2 linked regions of the Homo sapiens genome follow. Each later gene encodes a partner of the first gene's protein in a complex. Each region holds a gene or a part of one and is shown on either strand. Other genes may lie near its edges.

Region 1 (10,473 bases):
ACTCTAGATTTTTCTTTTTTTGAGATGAAGTCTCACTCTTGTCGCCCAGGCTGGTGTGTAATGTTGCAATCTCAGCTCACTGCAACCCCTGCCTCCCATGTTCAAGCGATTCTCCTGCCTCAGCCTCCTGAGTGGCTGGAATTACAGGCACCTGCCACCATGCCTGGCTAATTTTTCTATTTTTAGTAGAGATGGGGTTTCACCATGTTGGCCAGGTTGGTCTCTGAGGCCAGCTTGACCTCAGGCAATCCACCCGCCTCCGCCTCCCAAAGTGCTGGGATTACAAGCATGAGCCACCGCTCCCAGCCCTCACTCCAGATTTTTCTAAGTAACAGCATAACATGTTTGTTCTTGGAAAAGAAAAAAGTCCTAATTTCCTCACTACCAAGAGGTAACCACTGTAGTTTTGACTTGTCTCAGGATTTTTCCTCTCATGTAAATAGCCACACTTTACAAGGAAGATAGGATCACACCGTCTGTACTGTTTTGAACGTATCTCCACGACTTGGTAGCTGGCAGCTATGTGTGTTCTGCGACAAGGACTGATAGGATTCCCAGGAGAAACTTTCCTGGCTAACAATTCCCTTTGGCAAAAAAAAAAAAAAAAAAAAAAAGCTGCAGCAGTCACAAAGATAATCTAGGTCCCTTCCGGCCCAGGTTATAATCATAGCCACCTGTGGATCAAAGTGGGGACTTGCCGGGGACACCCTGCCCACTCCCAACCAGGAAAACAGTCACTTACCGGGCGTGGTTACCATTCTTTACTGGGGCCAGTGGTCAGCACGACAGCCGCCATTAGCCCTTGGACCCAGTCTCTCAACACAGGCAGCTTGCCCCTGGGCTGCTCTGCGGGTGTCAGCTTTTGGGCCCTGCAGTTTTCCCCTACTGGGACGTCATGAACTATCACTTCTGACTCGAAACTGGCTTCCTTGAGCCCTTTGAGGGCAGGGTTTCCCAATGCCAAAAAGCCTCCTAAGGGGATATGTCCTTACTCGGCCTTTTGACTTTCTATTACTTTACACAGAAACCTGTGTCTTGAGCCTGGGAAAGAATCGCCTTGGGGACATGATATGGCTCTCAGAGTTGAGAATAAGCTGCCTCTGTCCTTATGGACTGCTCACTTCAGGCTAAACCTTGACTGCAAAAGGAAGGCCTGCTTCTTGAAGCACTGAGGTGTACTATTTTTAATAATTCTCATTCAGGTCAATGTCTCCATCGTGCAGCTGGGCAAACAGACCCAGAGAGGCAGCAGCACTCTCATTTGCCTAAGTCACACTGTGAGTTGTTAAGAGAGGATTCGATCTTATAACCTGTCTGACTTGCAGGCCTAGAACAGGGGTCAGCAAACTACAGCCTGCCTCCTGTTTTTGTACAGCCTTTTCAAGTCAAGAATGGTTTTTACATTTTTTTTTTTAATGCTTCAAAAAAAGTCAGCTGGGTGCAGAGGCTCACGCCTGTAATCCCAGCACTTCGGAAGCTGAGGCACAATACTGTGAGCCCAGGAGTTTGAGTCCAGCCTGGGCAACATAGTGAGACCGCCCCCCACCACCATCTCTACAAAATAGAGAATAAAAAATGAATAAATTGGGCATGGTGCACATCTATAGTCCCAGCTTCTTGGGAGGCCAAGTAGGGAGGACTGCATGAGCCCAGGAGTTTAAGGCTGCAGGGAGCCTGGGTGACAGAGTAAGACCCTGTCTCCAAAAAATAAAGAAAACAACCAAAACAACAGTATTTCATGACACATACAAATTATATGGAGGGCTGGGTGCAGTGGCTCACATGTGCAATTCCAACACTTTGGGAGGTTAAGGTGGGCAGATCACCTGAGGCCAGGAGTTCAAGACCAGCCTGGCCAACATGGTGAAACGCCATCTTTACTAAAAATACAAAAATTAGGCCGGGTGTGGTGGCTCACGCCTGTAATCCCAGCACTTTGGGAGGCTGAGACAGGTGGATCATGAGGTCAGGAGATCGAGACCATCCTGGCTAACACAGTGAAACCCCATCTCTACTAAAAATACAAAAAAAATTAGTCAGACGTGGTAGTGGGCACCTGTAGTCCCAGCTACTTGGGAGGCTGAGGCAGGAGAATGGTGTGAGCTTGCAGTGAGCCGAGATCGCACCACTGCACTCCAGCCTGGGCAACAGAGCGAGACTCTGTCTCAAAAAAAAAAAAATTAGCCAGGCATGGCATGGTGGCGGGTACCTGTAATCCTAGGTACTTGGGAGGCAGAGGCAGGAGAATTGGTGGAACCCAGGAGGCAGAGGTTGCATTGAGCCGAGATTATGCCACTGCACTCCAGTCTGGGCGACACAACGAAACTTCCATGTCAGGGGAAAGAAAATTATATAGAGGCCTGTACCAGGGCAGGGGCGGGCCCTGAGGAGGCGCCTTGGCCAGACCAGGCTGCACCCAGAGACCACAGGCTGCCTGCTCACCTCATGCCCGTCAGCCACCCTTCCCCTCCCTGCTCCCAGTCCCCGGTAGGGCCAGAGAGGCCACCACCATCGTCCGGTGGGGATCTGGTGGGAGTCTGGTGAAGGGAAGCCGAGAAATGGGTCCTGGGCAGGAGCTCACTGTGCTCCTGAGGGACGGGAGATGGAGGCTGAGTCACTCTGCTCATTGCTGGAGGCCGGGGTGCTGCCTTTCTAACGTGACCATTCGGCTCTCAGCTCTCACCCCTGCCGGTTTGATTCTGTTTTCCCTGGGTCCTGAATACCTAGAGACCCAGCAGAATGTCAGCCAGTGCTGCTCCTGTTAAAGCACTTCTGACTGATTTCTGTTAGTTTAGCTACTGTTCACTAGTTGATGCTGAAATTGCTCTTATTAAAGTTAGATAGCATTAGGATTGTATGGTACTATTGGTACTATTTTTCAAATAAAGATTGTTTAATACGATTCTTACGAATACATGACTTCCACATCTCTGGACCCTCCAGAAGTACATAGGATAAGTATTGTATTTTCATTTAGAGAAAGGGTCTCTCAGCTGGGTGCAGTGGCTCATGCCTATAAGCCCAGCACTTTGGGAGACCGAGGTGGGTGGATCACCTGAAGTCAGAAGTTCGAGACCAGCCTGGCCAAGATGGTGAAACCCTGTCTCCACTAAAAATACAAAAATTAGCTGGGTGTGGCGGCACACACCTGTAATCCCAGCTACTCAAGAGGCTGAGGCATGAGAATTGCTCGAACCCAGGAGATGGAGGTTGCAGTGAGCCGAGATGGTACCACTGCACTCCAACCTGGGCAATAGAGCAAGACCCTGTCTCAAAAAAAAAAAAAAAAAAAAAGAAGAAGAAGAAGAAGAAAGGGCCCCTTTTACCTCAACATCATTGTGTTCAATATGGATAGGAAGGTTTAAAACAGACCATTTCTGATCTATGAGCTGTTATCATACCAGTACGATAAGTTGGCCGGAATAAACTTTGGTTTTAAAACAAAACAAAAAATCATATGAAATTGAATTTCAGCACCCATAGATGAAGCTTTATTGGATACAGCCATGACCGTTTGTTTGTTTACGTAACTGTCTATGGCTGTTTTCACATTACAACAGCTGAGTTGAGTAATTGCAACAGAGTAGCTATTGTCCCAAAAACCCAAAATATTTACTATTTGGCCTTTTATAGAAAAGGTATGATGGCCGGGTAAGTCTGATGGCTGGGTGTGGTGGCCCATGCCTGTAAACCCAGCATTTTGGGAGGCGGAGGCAGGAGGATCGCCTGAGCCCAGGAGTCTGAGACCAGCCTGGGAAACATAGTGAGATCCTGTTTCTACAAAAAAAAATTTTTTTAATTAAAAATATTTTTAAAAAATAGAAAAGAATAAGTTTGCCAACCCCTAGGCTAGGATCGCTTTGAGGGGCAGGAATATAACATTATATCATTTACTTGGAATTGCGGAGGATTGGGGCGGGCAAGGAAAATGGAGGCCATATGACTCAATCCTCTCTCAGGACTTTCCATAAGGCCAGATGAGCCTCAGCCTCCCAGCAGAGAGGCGTTCCAGGTCAGGTTGCCCTGGACTACGCAGTGCACCAGGTCTGTGCTGTGACCACCTTCCTGGAGTTACCAGATGCCTTTGTTCCTAGGAGTTCAAGAAATTGAACGTGTGAATCTTTAGCCCAGAGAGAAATGGCTGGGAGGGGCAGACTAAACTATGCAGAGGGGAAGCTGCATATGAGTGAGGAAAGGTGCTTGGCACGGGGATTTGGGAAGCCCTGGCCATGCTCTGCCCTGAGGCTATCTCATCGGGAAGTGCCCACTAAAGAGTGGTGGGAAGGAAGTCCAGTCAGAAAGGCTCCAAATCTGAGGCAACTGCCAGGCCCAGTGCCACCGTGCGAGCTGTACTCAGGGCTCGGTGAAACTGGGTCGGGGTCGCAAAGCATCATCAGCTAAGCTGAGAGGAGCCCAGGGCTGAGGCTGGAAGGCAGGCCTGGAGAGCAGCCCACTCTCAGCAGTCACTTGCTCTAGATGGAAATGGGTCTGCTTCAGAGGAACTGGGTCTATGTGGTGCTCCTTCTTCTTCATCCTTTTTTTTTTTTTGAGTCAGGGTCTCACTCTGTTACCCAGGCTGGAGTGCAGTGGTGCAATCATAGCTCATGGCAACCTTTTAACTCCTGGGCTCAGGTGATCCTCCTGCCTTAGCCTCCCAAGTAGCTGGGACTACAAGTGCACACCACTATACCCTGCTATTTGTTTTGAGAGGGGCTGCGGTCTCACTATGTTGCCCAGGACAGTCTCGAACTCCTGGCCTCAAGCTGTCTTCCCACATCAGACTCCCAAAGTGTTAGGGTTACAGTCATGAGCCACGTGCCTGGCCCATTTGGTGCTTTGGATAGGCCCACCTAGGACAGGAATTCACGGGAGTTGAACTCCTCTTTACTGAATGCCAGCCCTCACTTTAGGAGGTACTCCTGGGGACACAAGGATGAGAAAGCCAGCTTGTTCCCATAGAGACTTCCATTCAAAGAGAAAGTCAAACAACGAACTAGAATGTACACAGCCAATCGAGGGAGGAAGAGGACTGCATTCAGGTGCCAGATCCTCCTCTTCCTCAGTGCCTTCCTCTACTCTCCCCTCTACAAAGAACTCTGGCCTCAATGTCAGCATTATACATCTGGACCACAGCTGGGCTGCTGTTCAATGGCCTCCCCATGACTAGCTTTCTGCTCTGGCCAAGCCCACCCTGGGCACTCGGGGCATCTGTTAAAAAGATAATCACTGCCAGGCATGGTGGCTCATGCCTGTAATCCCAGCACTTTGGGAGGCCGAGGTGGGCAGATCACCTGAGGTCAGAAGTTTGAGACCAGCCTGGCCAACACGGTGAAATCCCATCTCTACTAAAAATACAAAAACTAGCCAGGCATGGTGGTGGGCGCGTGTGGTCCTAGCTACTTGGGAGGCTGAGGCAGAAGAATTGCTTGAACCCGGGAAGTGGAGGCTGCAGTGAGCTGAGACTGTGCCACTGCACTTCAGCCTGGGCGACAGAGTGAGACTCCTCTCAAAATAAATAAATAAATAAAATTAAAAAATAAGATAATCACTACCAGGAATGATAACTCTTAGAAGAACTGGGAGCAGTGGAGAGGGCACCAAGATGATTTCCACGTCTGTCCAGATTTCCTGGAGCAAGGCAAATACATTTCCCAAATAAATGGACTTCTTCCTGAGAAAGTGGAGAACCCCAAACTTACACATCTTAGTAGAGGGCGCCATCTTCTGGCCTGGACCCTGCCCCCTCCCAGCCTGTGTGTGCCCGAGGACCAGGCTCTCCTAGGCTCCCAGTAAGTACATCATGTGTGACTGGGAAAGACAACCAGCTTTCTCCTTCCGTGGCTGGCTGCAGGATCATAAAACTGCTTTTCCACTTTACAATCAATCAGGTTGGGTCAGGCAGGATTTCAAGGCTTCTGTCCTAGGTAGATGGGCTCTGTAAAGTCCCGCTTAAAAAAAAAGTGAAGGTAGGTTCAAGATCTGCACACAACTGGGGATGAGGGGAGTCTGATGCTCTGCTGTGTGATCATGCAAGGAACTGTTCCCAGTGCAAGTTATGTCGCTTTCAGGGACACTTTCTTCATCCAAATAAGAATGTCAACCACACTAAAACTAATGGATGTCTCTGAGTGGTGTGTGTGTGCGGGTGCGCATGTGCAAATGTATCTTAATATTTAACTGTCAGACAGCCAGAAATAAGCTCTCATCCTGTATCTCACGCTAGTGGGGAGGTCTAGAAAAGGCGGGGGGGCTTGGACTGCCGGATCCCACCCACGATTAATGTGCTGAAGCCCCCTTCTGTTATGATACTAAAGTAATTCAAATTGAAGAGAAAGGACCGTTGGGTATTATTGTGTCTCTTGGCCCTCCAATGTGAGCGATCCCCATGGGAATGGACGGGATGTCTCTGAAAAGGAGTAGTGATTCTCACACTCTGAGAAAGCAGTCTCTTAGGGAAGGGATGGTGTCTTTAGGTTTGGATATCACGTGTAAAAACTGGGTGTGGAAAAGAAGGGAGTGACACTTCTTAAAGGTATGTTTTATTTTGTTTGAGATGGAGTCTCGCTCTGCCACCCAGGCTGGAGTGCAGTGGCGCGATCTTGGCTCACTGCGCCTCCTGCGCCTCCTGGGTTCAAGCGATTCTCCTGCCTCAGCCTCCTGAGTAGCTGGGATTAGAGACGTGCACCACCACGCCCAGCTAATTTTTGTGTATTTTTAGTAGAGACGGGATTTCACCATGTTGCCCAGGCTGGTCTCAAACTCCCGAGCTCAGGTGATCCACCTGCCTCGGCCTTCCAAAGTGCTGGGATTACAGGCGTGAGCCACCACGCCCAGATAGCTCAAGGTTTTTTAAAAAACATCTGAATCTGCGTGCTTGCGCCGCTCCAGGTCTCCATCACTCCATATTCTTTCACTCCAAACTCCTTTAGACATTCCTGCCTGGCCTCCAAAAGCGTTTGGGTTTGCATCTCTGGATTTTTTTTTCAACTTCCTCATTTTACAGTTGAGAAAAACAGGAGGTAAAGAGAGGAAGGAATCTGCTTTAGGAAGCAGCTCTGGAAAGCAGAACACAGTTTCCTGCTCCCGCTCTCTCTCCACTACTCTCCCTTTAAAAAATATACTTTCTTCTATGGCCAATTAAACATTCATTACCAACCTGCGATTCCCTTAGGACTTTAAAAGGAGGGTTGTTCAGGGGTGACAACAATCTTCTGTCTGTTATACGTGTCCATGTAGGCAAAAACTTTCCCAAATTCAACCCCAGTCTAGGTCCCAAAAACTAACTACAGAGTGCAGGGAAACCAGACAGCTACAGTTCAGCCCAGGAACCTCCTCTCCTAGCTCACGTTTCTACCCGAGCCCGCGGAGGCACAGACCGGAAGTGGCGCGCAGCCTCCCAGCGGAGGGAACCGCCTATGCCTCCGTCGCGCTGGCCGGAAGACGGGGGTGCAACCCTTTGAAGTGTCCCCTCCTACTTCTTGCTGCCTCACGGTTGCTGTTGCAGACCCAGGAGTCTCTGAAGGCTTCCGCGGCTTTGGGGCCGGTTGTGAGATGCCAGGCAGAGGCCGCTGCCCGGACTGCGGCTCCACGGAGCTGGTGGAAGACTCGCACTATTCGCAGAGCCAGCTGGTGTGCTCCGACTGCGGCTGCGTGGTCACCGAGGGGGTCCTTACCACTACCTTCAGCGACGAGGGCAATCTCCGAGGTACTTGTGGCCCTGGGGACAGCCTGGGGCGGTGGAGGGATTAACATCAGATTCCTTTTGCCTCCCCGCTCCCCCCATACTCCTAACTGTAACGCACACACTTAATTTGAGAGAAAATGACCTAAAGTGAGCGAGGGAGCTGAAGGAGATGGGGGCTGCCATTCATCTGTGTTTTCCCAGCACTTAGTATCGGGCATAGATGGTGCGTGTAATAAATATTGAATAAGTGAGACAGAAACAAAAGTTCCACTCATCTTGCCATGTCTGGTCATTGTGGAAGGATTGCCGATACGATTATAGCAGGTATTATTACCCTGAAATAGTTTTAAGCACAAACTGGCAAAACATCACTTTTCTTTGCTTTCCAAGTTTCTGACCAGTGCAGCCCTCAAAATCTGCAGCCATTGTCTGGGTGGGGTGGCTTACGCCTGTAATCCCAGTGCTTTGGGAGGCAGAGCCGAGAGGATTGCTTGAGCCCAGGATCTCGAGACCAGCCTTGGTAACGTAACGAGACAAGTGCCTAAAAAAATTTTTTTTTAATTAGCCAGGTATGGTGGCATACACCTGTAATCCCAGCTACCCAGGAATCTGAGGTAGGAGGATTGCTTGAGCCTGGAAGTTGAAGGCTGCCGTGAGCTGTGATCGCACCACTGTGCTCCAGCCTGGACTATAGAGGGAAACTCCTTAAACAAACAACAACAAAATCTGCTGCTAGGAAAATTGCCTGTATGGAATGTACTGGAAGGATGACTGGAAATTTGGAACACTTGGAGCTGCTTTAATGCAGTCCTAACCTTTCCCAGTCTCTGTGTATTCGGAACCTCTTGTAGACATAGAAAACCAGATGGGGCCTTTAACTGTGCAGCAGCAGATGCTCAATGATTTGAATTTTGCGTCCTGGTTTTGTGTGGTGGGAGGGCAGGGGTCTGATGAATAAAGGCTAAGCACACTATTTGTTGTTTATTATCTTACAGAGGTAACATATTCCCGAAGCACAGGGGAAAACGAACAAGTTAGTCGCAGCCAGCAACGAGGTGAGAATTGACCTTTTACAACACAGTGGCTTTAAAGAAAACTATCCTAGGCCAGGTGCTGTGGCTCACGCCTGTAATCCCAGCACTTTGGGAGGCCTAGGCAGGTGGATCACCTGAGGTCAGGAGTTCAAGACCAGCCTGGCAAACATAGCGAAACCCCGTCTCTACTAAAAATACAAAAATTAGCTGGGCATGGTGGCATGTACCTGTAGTCCCAGCTACTTGGCAGGCTGAGGCAGGAGAATCGCTTGAACCTGGGAGGTGGAGGTTGCAGTGAGCTGAGATCGCGCCACTGCACTCCAGCCTGGGTGACAGAGTGAGACTCCATCTCAAAAAAATAATAATGAGCCGGGCGCGGTGGCTCATGCCTGTAATCCCAGCACTTTGGGAGGCCGAGGCGGGCGGATCACGAGGTCAGGAGATTGAGACCATCCTGGTTAACACGATGAAACCCCATCTCTACTAAAAATACAAAAAAATTAGCCGGGCGTGATGGTGGGTGCCTGTAGTCCCAGCTACTCGGGAGGCTGAGGCAGGAGAATGGCGTGAACCCGGGAGGCGGAGCTTGCAGTGAGCCGAGATCGCACCACAGCACTCCGGCCTGGGTGACAGAGCGAGACTCTGTCTCAAAAAATAATAATAATAATAATAATAATAATAATAATAAAAGAAAACTATCCTGGTGGCCTAGCCCAGCTTTTCACTTTTCCTATTTTCAGCATTGCTGGTGTGAGGTAGAGTAGAAGAGAATGGTAATTAGGAATTTAAAATGGGGATGGTGGCTCACACCTGTAATCCCAGACTTTGGGAGGCCGAGACGGGCAGATCGCTTGAGGTCAGGAGTTCAAGACCAGCCTGGCCAACATGGTGAAACCCCGTCTCTACTAAAAATACAAAAATTAGCTGGGCCTGGTGGTGCACACCTGTAATCCCAGCTACTCGGGAGGCTGAGGCAGGAGAATCACTTAAACCTGGAAGGAGGAGGTTTCAGTGAGCCAAGATGGCGCCACTGCACTTCAGCCTGGGCAACTGAGCCAGACTCTGTCTCAGAAAATAATAAAATAAATAAAACAAATAGGGATGGTTCTGAGAGAGGCAGCAATTCAGTATAAGGTTTGGGTTTGATCAGACGTATGTTTGAGGTAGCCTCTAAGAGCCTGGATAAAACTTGGGCTTGGCCCTGAATCAAACCAGCCTGCAAAAACTAGTGGGCTGAAATGTGACTTCTTTACACAAATGTTTTTGTGTCTTTAGAATGACTATACCAAGTGTCACTCCTGTCTATGCAGAAAGGTACATAATTTGTGCATCTGATATCTGAGGCAAGTTTAGCAGATCTAAGTAAGTCCTAGCAGAATTTTCTAGGAGTTGCACGATAGCTCCTTTGACCCCTCTAACTCTTGCCGTGGGTTTTTCCTAGGTCTCCGGCGAGTGAGAGACCTTTGTCGAGTTCTGCAGTTGCCACCAACATTTGAGGATACCGCGGTTGCCTACTACCAACAGGCATATCGGCACTCTGGCATCCGAGCGGCCAGGCTGCAAAAGAAGGAGGTGTTGGTTGGGTGCTGCGTCTTAATCACCTGCCGACAGCATAACTGGCCCCTAACAATGGGGGCCATCTGCACGCTGTTGTATGCAGATTTGGATGTGTTTTCTAGCACTTACATGCAGATAGTGAAGCTCCTGGGACTGGATGTGCCATCTCTGTGCTTGGCAGAACTGGTGAAGACCTAT
Region 2 (10,622 bases), on another chromosome or scaffold:
GAACTACTTTAAAGATCTTCATTGGAAGACAAAAAAATTTCTCTATTTCTTGTTGCCTTCACTATTCCTTTGCTTCTTATTCCTCCCCACTGCCCGGATTATTTTACTAATGTGCACACAGTCTCTAGGTAGAAGTTTGTATGACTACATTGCTTGCTGCATATCTCTGATATGGATTTTAATTACAGTTAGCTAACAAATTATTCTTTTTATTTATATTTTTTCAGTTTAAACTAGAGTCTATTAATAGATACTGTGGCTTGGTAGAAAATTAAACTTTTCTGAATGGCCTCTGGGTTTTAGAACACTGGTGGACACTGTAACTAATACTCAATCTGATCTCAACAACTTTCCTCTCCATGGGCAGTGTCATTTTTGCTTTGTCATGTGACCTTTCTAGCCTTTGAATCTCCAGAATCCTCAAAAGCAATTCTAAGATTCTGTGTTTTATCAAATTATACACCTATGTCTAACAGAAAGTTTTCCCCCTCTCCTACTCCACATATGTTGGCCTGTTCAAGATGCTATGTAAGAGAGATAGTAGGAAAATAGTCTCTCAAAGAATGCATTAAAAATTCTTTAGGCTGGGCATGGTGACTCACACCTATAATCCCAGCACTTTGGGAGGCTGAGACAGGAGGATCACTTGAGGCCAGGAACTCAAGACAAGCCTGGACAACATAGCAAGACCCATCTCTATTAAAGAAAAGGTACTTTATTAGATAAACTAGTGAGTATTTCTTTGAAATTTAATCTTCTAGGTTAATTTTGCATCTTACCTACTTCATATAAATATTTTAAGTTTTTTGTCATGATTGGTGATTTGGTGATGTTTGTTTGGAGGTTTATATATATATATATATATATATTTGAAACACACACACACACACACACACACACACACACACACACCCATATTTTTTTAAAGACAAGGGTCTTGCTCTGTCACCCAGGCTGGAGTGCAGTGGTGTGATCATGGCTTACTGCAGCATTCACCTTTTGGGCTCAATTGATCCTCTTGCCTCAGCCTCCCAAGTAGCTGGGACTACAGGTGCATGCCACCACATCTGGCTAATTTTTAAATTTTTTTGTAGAGACAGGGTTTCGCCATGTTGCCCAGGCTGGTCTTGAACTCCTGGGCTGAAGGGATCCTCCTTCCTTGGCCTCCCAAAGTGCTGGGATTATAGGTGTGAGCCACCACGCCTGGCCATGAATATTTTATAGATTCTTAAACTCCGTGTTTTAGAAAAACACATATGCAGACCTTAAAGCACATTTATAGTTTTGTGCTCATTCCATACCTTATTTTCTCCATTCATGATCCTCTTGTTTTGCCTTTCTTCTCAAATTTGTGATCTGAGGAAAGTTCGTAGATCCACTGTATATTTTAAGTTGAGAAATAATCTAGTTCAATTTTATATCTGATATCCAGTCTCAGATACTGCCCTTCAGTTAATTCTGTACTTCTTTTGTTACTTAGAAACAATCAATCTATTGCTTTGGTGGAATGGCAGTTTAAAAAATCTAAGCACATAGAATATAATTATAACATTGCATATCTGTATCTTACAATCTGAACTGTTATGGAAATAATGAAATTATTAATAAAGCCTTTGCTTCAAGCATTTATATGTTTAAATAATACGCCTGTTTTCAAAATGTGACTTTATAAAGATAGTTTATTTTATCTCTTCCCATGGTACCCAAACCAAGATTGCTAGCACAGTAATCTCACTAAAAGCTAGATGTTTCTGGATGGAGATGAAAAGTATCATAAATCAAAAAATGGAATGCGGTCCATTCAGGACTAATCAAATTAAATTTCCTTTATTGATTGCTGTTAATTTTACATTTAACGTTGTCAATTGCTAAAGTTAATGATGGATATAAACACTTCAGTTATGTAAACAAGTACAATTTGAAAAGCAATCTTATTCCTAAGGACCTGTCTTACAGTATCAAAAATTGCATTATTGAAAACAGTTATTTCAGTGAGGAAGGATAGTATAGGACCTAAAGAAGTTGAAACAAGCAATAGCATACTTTTGTTGTTTTGTTTTTGTTTCTGTTTGAGACAGAGTCTTACTCTGTTGCCCAGGTGGAGTGCAGTGGCATGATCTTGGCTCACTGCAACCTCCGCCCCCTGGGTTCCAGCTATTTTCCTGCTTTAGCCTCCCATGTAGCTGAGATTACAGGCGCGTGCCACCACGCCCTGCTAATTTTTGTATTTTGAGTAGAGACAGGGTTTCATCATGTTGGCCAGGCTGGTCTCAAACTCTTGACCTTAAGTGATCCACCTGTCTCAGCCTTCCAAAATGCTGGGATTACAGGCTGAGCCACCATGCCCAGCCTAGCATACTTTTAAGTAAATCTTTTGCTTATTTGTTTTGTTTTTTGTTTGTTTGTTTTGAGATGGGATCTTGCTCTCTTGCCCAATCTGGAGTGCAGTGGCATGATCATGGCTTACTGCAGCCTCATCCTTCCTGGGCTCAGGTGATCCTCCCACCTCAGCCTCCTGAATAGCTGGGACTACAGGTGCACGCCACCTCACTTGACTAATTTTTTTTTTTTTTGTAGAGATGGGATTTCTACCAAAAACTCATGGGCTCAAGCCATCTGCTTCAGCCTCCTGAAGTGCTAGGAGTACAGGCATGAAGCATCATGCCCAGCTCAATACGTCTTTTTTTAAGCTGTTGAATGTATAGTTATATACCTGTTCAGTCCGACATGGCCGAATACAATCTAGTGTTTCATTTGATCTAGCTTTTGCCCAATATTAATAACTTTTCCTAACCAGTCATTTAAAAGCCCTTTCATTCATTTATATGTTTATTGATTTTACCATCTATTATAATAAACAGAAAGCAAAACAAAAAGTGCTGCTGCTTTTCTGGAGAGCAAGGTGCTTGCTTTGGATAGTGGTTGTGTGCCCAGTAGCATTCAGCAAAGTATTATTGTGTATTTGGTCTGTCCTTTGATTCTTTACTTATGTTATGAAATAACAAGCCTTTAGAGAACTATCTGTATAGGAAATCTCATATAAAATTGGTTTTAAAAGGTGAGGAGGGCAGACCTCATTTGTAGTCCTAAGATTTAATCTTGGTCAAGTCATACTTGTATCCAGGTATTTGAGGTGGTCAGGTCTATTATGGCAAACCATTTGTCTGTATAAAAGATAGAAGGGATGAAGAGGTAGAAATAGCAGACATACATCAATCTAGCTCCAATGCAGAGAACTGGAGAGTCTTTCCCAGTCAGTATTTATAAATGGTAGTGTGAATGACAATTGGAAAGACACTGTTAGGATCAAATAGCTTCTATACTGATTGACCTTACTAGATATATATATATATTTAAACTTATTGCTGTGATTTCAAAAGGTGGGATTTTTTTTCTTTTAATTTTTAAATTTTACCCAGCGATTCCTAGGCCTTCCTTAATTTTTTTGAATTTGAGAGTTTCTGGTGTTTCTGTAGTGATTTCTCAAACATCATCTCTTCAGCAGGCAGTCTGGTTTAAAACTTGATTGTGTGCCCCCTTTTTTTTTTATAGCGTTCAAGAGAATAATAAGGCAAATAAACTTAACCAAGTCCCAATTCTAAGGACTCGATTTCAGAAACCAAAGCCAAATATAGGAAGAGGAACTGGAAGGAGAGAAATTTCCTCAAAGGAAGAGGTACTAGAGAAGATTCTTGTCTCTGGGGAAATGGCGGCAGCATTGAGAGAAACTGTAAGACTAGACACCTCACCAAAGGAGATGGTACCAGCAGAGATTAATACTAAAGAAATGCAGTCAGATTTAAAAGAAACTGGAAGAAGAGCCATTTCTCCCAGGGAGAAGATTCTAGATGTGATTGATGACACCATAGAAATGGAGACAGGTCTGAAAGCAATGGGAAGAGAGATTTGTCTAAGGGAGAAGACGCCAGAGGTGATTGATGCCACTGAGGAAATAGACAAAGATTTGGAAGAAGCTGGAAGAAGAGAAATATCCCCACAGAAAAATGGCCCAGAGGAGGTTAAGCCTCTAGGTGAAGTGGAGACAGATTTGAAAGCAACTGGAAATGAGAGTTCCCCAAGGGAGAAGACACCAGAGGTGACTGATGCCACTGAGGAAATAGACAAAAATTTGGAAGAAACTGGAAGAAGAAAAATATCCCCAAGGGAAAATGGCCCAGAGGAGGTCAAGCCTGTAGATGAAATGGAGACAGATTTGAACGCAACTGGAAGAGAGAGTTCTCCAAGGGAGAAGACACCAGAGGTGATTGATGCTACTGAGGAAATAGATTTGGAAGAAACTGAAAGAGAAGTATCCCCACAGGAAAATGGACTAGAGGAGGTCAAGCCTCTAGGTGAAATGGAGACGGATTTGAAAGCAACTGGAAGAGACAGTTTCCCAAGGGGGAAGACACCAGAGGTGATTGATGCCATTGAGGAAATAGAGATAGATTTGGAAGAAACTGAAAGAGAAATATCCCCACAGGAAAATGGCCTAGAGGAGGTTAAGCCTCTAGGTGAAATGCAAACAGATTTGAAAGCAACCGGAAGGGAGATTTCCCCAAGGGAGAAGACACCAGAGGTGATTGATGCCACTGAGGAAATAGACAAAGATCTGGAAGAAACTGGAAGAAGAGAAATATCCCCAGAGGAAAATGGCCCAGAGGAGGTCAAGCCTGTAGATGAAATGGAGACAGACTTGAAAACAACTGGAAGAGAGGGTTCCTCAAGGGAGAAGACACGAGAGGTGATTGATGCTGCTGAGGTAATAGAGACAGATTTGGAAGAAACTGAAAGAGAAATATCGCCACAGGAAAATGGCCCAGAGGAGGTCAAGCCTGTAGGTAAAATGGAGACAGATTTGAAAGAAATTAGAGAAGAAATTTCCCAAAGGGAAAAGGTGCTAGCAGAGTTCAGTGCTATAAGGGAAAAGGAGATTGATTTGAAAGAAACTGGAAAAAGAGACATTCCCATCATGGAGAAAGTATCAGGAAAGATGGCTGTTGTTGAAGAAATGGAGGCAGATTTGAAAGAAACTGGAAAAGAAAATTTTAGAGAGAGAGGATCTGAAGAGATCTGTGTTACTGAGGAAAAGGTGGCAGAATTGAAACAAACTGGAAAAACAGACATTTCTCCAAGGGAAAACGAGCTAGAGGAGACCAGTACCTCAAGACAAACTGACACACATTTAATGCAGAGCGGTAGCAATGACTTCAGTGCTGTGCCTTCACTAGATATTCAGGTATGTATTTTTCTGTCCTTTAAAAGTTTTTTGAATGCTTTTTTCAGAGGAAATAAATAATTCCATGATTATTTTGTCCTTAAGTCCAACAACACTTAAAAATCTCTAAAAGTCTAAAGTCTTTTGTAGCCCTAAGTTTCTATGTTTCAGTGCCTTGAAGAAACTGTATGTTCTTTTTTAAAAAGATAACTTTAGGCTGGGCACACCTTTAAACCCAACACTTTGGGAGGCCAAGGTGGAAGGATTACTTGAGCCCAGGAGTTTGAGACCAGCCTGGGCAACATAGAGAGACCTTGTCTCTACAAAAAATAAGATAAAATAAAAATAAATAAAATAAATAAAAAATAAAATACAATAACAAGGTGTAAGCCTGTAGTCCCAGCTACTTGGGAGGCTGAGGTGAGAGGATCACTTGAACCCTGGAGGTTGAGGCTGCAGTGAGCTGTGATTGTGCCATTGTACTCCACCCTGGGTGACAGAGTGAGACCCTGTCTCAAAAAGAAATAAAAATAATTTCCAACTGTGAAAAAGTCACTGTTATTATTATTATTTTTTTTCTTTAAGTCAGATGGGCAAGGATCAAACTTTTCTTTTGGCTTAGGTTTGAGATCTCAAAAATGTCACTGTTCTTAATATCATTTGAAGTTACTCTTTTAGGTAAAAGAAGAATAGGAAATTAGACTGAATTTGTACTAACCCTAGCGTGAACACACATTATTTCTTTTGGCCACATCTGTATCTGCTTTTGTTTCTTGCCCCACCTGACTTACTTCACTTCTAAAAGTTCTTTTTGTTTTTTCAAGTTACTTTGAAGTTCATGATCTTCTAACATTTTCAAGGACTTTTTTTTTTTTCTAACTTTTAAAAATAGATAATGACATTTGTGGTTTGGGAAAGTAATAATATGCAACATAAAAGGGTTTCCTGAATTCCAAGTTTTAACATTTGGAAATTAAATTTTATTCAAAAATTAAAAACTTCTAAAGTTTTAAAGGAAAGTGTTTAGAATTTAGTAGACTTTTGTTTTAAATATATAAGATGTTTAAATACTCTTTTATTTGTGCTGATTTACTATGACTGTTCCTCTAGAACATTAGCAGTGAAGTACTGTCGATGATGCATACACCTGTAGAAGAAAAAAGAAATTCTGAAAAAGAAGTATCAAGTCACTTCAGTCATTTCAAGATTTCTTCACAGACTCATGAATCTGATAAAACAGAAGTCCAGGGGATTCAATCTCCAGATGTTCCAGAGCAGTTTTCAGATATTAATTTAAGGTACAAGTGTGTTTTTAAAGAAAAAGATATTAAGTTATAGTTGCAGATTACGTTAAACTAAGTGAGGTTTCAAGATATAACATATACAGGATAGTGTTAGAGCTTTTAAGATAGTTTTGGGAAGACTGGGAGAGAGGATTGAGGTCACTCTGACAGTCAATTGTGAAAGTTACTGACATACAAAATTGTATGTAACAGTCTTAAATCAATACAGGTTTGATAGACTCATATTTTCTTTGTGCAGAGATGGTGTAATTCCTAGGCTCATACCTGGATTGTACCACTCATGGTTTTCAGGATCTGCCAGATAGTTCGATTTGTTTTCCTGTTAAGAATTAGAATTAGGCCAAGTATGGTGGCTCACACCTGTAATCCTAGCAATTTGGGAGGCTGAGGTGGGTGGATCCTTTGAGCCTAGGAGTTTGAGACCAGCCTGGGCAACACGCTGTAGAAACCCCATCTCTATAAAATAAAAAAACAAAAACTAGCTGGGTGTGGTGGCACATGCCTGTAGTCCCAGCTACTTGGGAGGCTCAGATGGGAAGATCACTTGAGCCCGCGGAGGTCAAGGCTGCAGTGAGCTATGATTGTGTCATTGCACTCCAGCCTGGGGGATAGAACAAGACCCTGTCTCCAAAAAAAAAAAAAAAAAAAAAAAAATTAAATGTTTACCGCCAGTCTCTAAGGTTGTACTGAGACTCCGTTTCCACTGCCCCTTCAGTTCATTCTAAAGCTTGATAATCCTTGTTCCAAAAGCAAATCTCTTCCTCAAGAACAGAAGCCACTTGAAATTAAACCAGCACCTTTTGTGAGGAGCCGATTCAAAAGACCAAAACCAAACTTAGCAAGAGCAGCTTTGAAGAGAGAGACTACAGAATCAGAAAAATATATATATGAGAAGAAATCAGAAACCAAGAAAATGGAGACTATTGTGATGCAAGAAAATAATGAACAAACTGATACTCTCCCTTCTCAACATGTGAGTGTATTTGAGATGGAAGTTCTGTGTGGGTGTTTTTTTTTTTTTTTAAGTTATTAGGACTACTAAAAGCACCTGGCATTAAAATTCTACAAATATTTCTGTGTAATTTTTGCTGCATGTGATATTGCTCCCATGCTTAATGTGCCTCATTGTTCCACATAATTTGTGTAAGAATCTCAGATATCTGATAATGGGCAAACGTGTTGTGGGAAAGCGTTCAGGTCTGGGCTCTGGTTCCAGTTCCAGCTATGTGACCATTGATTAAACAATTTTCTTCATAGAAAAAATGACAATAATAGTTTTTTATTTTTTTTATTTTTATTTTTTTGAGATGAAGTCTCACTCTGTTCCCAGGCTGGAGTGCAGTGGCGCGATCTCGGCTCACTGCAACTTCCACCTCCCAGGTTCAAGCGATTCTCCTGCCTCAGCCTCCTGAATGCTGGGACTACAGGCGCGTGCTGCCATGTCCGGCTAATTTTTTTTTTTGTATTTTTAGTAGAGATGGGGTTTCACTATGTTAGCCAGGCTGATCTCGAACTCCTAACCTCGTGATCTGCCTGCTTTGGCCTCCCAAAGTGCTGGGATTACGCTGAGCCGTGGCGCCCAGCGAGAATAATCGTTTTTTATTTCACTCTCTTGTGAAGGTGAAATGAAGAGTTAAAAGCTTGATTTGAGTTAAAGGTGATATTTTATTTACTTTATTAACTTGGTCCATAACAGATTAAGATTGTGTGACATACCATCAAAAAAACATTGAAACGAAATGAATAATTATAAACTGAATGTTTTCCACATTCAGTGGAAGTCCTTCTTAGAATTAAAATTCTTATTTGATGTCTTAAAATAGCTCAGTACTTTACTGTGCATCAACATTTGTACTATTTCTCCTAAGCTTATATTCATAAAAGATAAGTTACATTTGTATTATACTTTCTGATTATAGAAATTTTAATTTGGAAAAATATATGTATTCTAAAAAGTGAGAGTCTTTTATAATGTCACGTCCCTTTCCCCCAAGTTAATCATACAGCAATTTTGAATATATCCACTTACACTTTTTCGTCTTACAGTTATAAAATGATAAAATGGGAAGGTATTTTTATTGTTTTCCAAAATGACATTAATTCTTGCTTTCTGATTTTTCCACTTACAGTATTGTGAGCTTCTTTTTAGATCAGTACAAAGAGATATATCTTCTTTTAAATGATTAGGTACTATTGCATTGTAAAGAAATTAAAATTTATTTATTCCATCCCCTAATGATATATCTGTTTTATTTCTGATTTTTTTGTTTGTCTTTTCCGGTGAGGGAGGTGGTGCTTAAATTGTTACAATAAATATTTTTGTGTGTATATTTCTACTTGTTGAGTATTTATAAGATACATTTCTAGAAGTGGAATTGCTGGGAATTTAGAATTTTGGTATAGACTACCCTATTATTCTTCACGAAGATGATATCAGTTTATACTTGTAAAGTTCTTATTTCCTTATACTTTTAGCAACTGTGAATGAAATTTTTTTTCTGTCTTCTAGGATGAAGCTTCCCTAATGATATCAAGAGAAAAAGACACATTAGGTCACAGGAATGAGGAGGCTGTGATATTGCCATGTACACAGACTGAAAGGAACCTTTCACCTTCAAATTCTTGTGAACCTAAAGAGGAGTCTCAGTCAGCACCAGTCCAGAAAAATGACTCAGTTGTTTCTGTGGGGTAAACAGTGATTTTCTTTGACAATATAAAATAAGAGAGATACTTCTTTTAAATATTTCTAATTTTTATTGAGATATGTTAATGCATTTAAAAAGTGAACATAAAGAATATTGGTTTAATTTTATTGATACAGCAGACTGCCTAAAATATAATATCAGATTGAATTCAACACCTTCTAATGGTTGCCTGCTTATCTGCATTGTCAGCTGCGTAAGAGTGTATACAAAGCAATGCATTTAAAAACTACAAGTTGAGCATCCCTAATAAAAAATTCTGAAATGTGCCACAATTTAAAACTTTTTGAGAGCTGACATGATGCTCAAGAAATGCTCAGTGGAGCATTTTGGATTTTCAAAGTAGGGATGCTCAACTGATAAGTATAATGCAAATATTTCCAAATCTAAAAAAATCTGAAATCTGAAACATTTCTGGTCCTAAGCATTTTGGATAGGGCTACTCAGCTTATATGTATATAAGCTATATATATTCATTAACTTTTAAAAATTAGTATACACATAAGATAAAATTTACCATTTTAACTATTTTTTAATATACAGTGGCATTAAGTGTATTCACATTGTTGTCCCGTTGCCACCACCATTCATCTCTAGACTTTCTTTTTCATCTTCATAAAATGAAACTCTCTACCCATTAAATACTAACTCATTCTCCTCCTCTTCCAGCTCCTGGCAACCACCATTCTATCTGTATATTTAGCTACTTTAGGCATATTATATAAGTTTATTACCTTTTAAGAATTGACATAACTGTTTTCTTTTGTAAAATAAGATGTTTATAATCAGAAAGCAATTTCCCTTTAATGGTACAAAGTATTTTTTAGAGTGTTTATTAGAGGAGATCCAAATTTTACATTTTTACATTAGTTTTCAGCTTTTTACAGTCAAGCGCCCTGCCTTTCTCCCTGTCCCCTTGTTTAGGACTAATAATGTAAACACTTTCCAGCAAGAAATGAAGGAAAGTGTTATCCAAACTGCTCGACAAGTAAGGGGCCGACTTCAGAGACCGAGACCAAATATAAGAAAGACAGGACAGAGGCAAATAGTAGACAAAGGTGAAGCCAAAGGCATAATTAAGGAAGGAAGAACGATATTACCAAAAGATGAAACTGAAAAGAAAGTCTTAACTGTGGTGAGTTATTGTTATGTAATTAAATTTAGCCTTTTAATGCATTTAAAATGTCAAGTTATAGCTCAGACATAGCTTAGAAATACAGGCATCTGACACTTATTCTACTCAATGAATACAGTTTCCAGTTTTGTTTCAGATTTGCTCTTCTGGATTTTTTTTTTAAGTGAAAATAGATTTATTTCTTTTCTAATTAATGAAGCTATTCATCGTAAAATGTTCCATTAGGACAAAATAATATAAATACCGCAAATCTTACTCTGAGA

The links.
Region 2: BRF2 (region 1) and BDP1 share a complex: the UniProt entries of both Homo sapiens proteins name them as parts of the TFIIIB complex.

Annotation. Positions count from the first base shown.
Region 1 is NC_000008.11:37,846,862-37,857,334, reverse strand, and holds the start of BRF2 (transcription factor IIIB 50 kDa subunit), read left to right. Parts: upstream 1-7,473; 5' UTR 7,474-7,551; coding exon 7,552-7,705; intron 7,706-8,679; coding exon 8,680-8,739; intron 8,740-10,159; coding exon 10,160-10,473. UniProt on the Homo sapiens protein: General activator of RNA polymerase III transcription. Factor exclusively required for RNA polymerase III transcription of genes with promoter elements upstream of the initiation sites.
Region 2 is NC_000005.10:71,505,913-71,516,534, forward strand, and holds part of BDP1 (transcription factor TFIIIB component B'' homolog), read left to right. Parts: intron 1-3,552; coding exon 3,553-5,239; intron 5,240-6,328; coding exon 6,329-6,516; intron 6,517-7,272; coding exon 7,273-7,495; intron 7,496-9,031; coding exon 9,032-9,210; intron 9,211-10,148; coding exon 10,149-10,359; intron 10,360-10,622. UniProt on the Homo sapiens protein: General activator of RNA polymerase III transcription. Requires for transcription from all three types of polymerase III promoters. Requires for transcription of genes with internal promoter elements and with promoter elements upstream of the initiation site.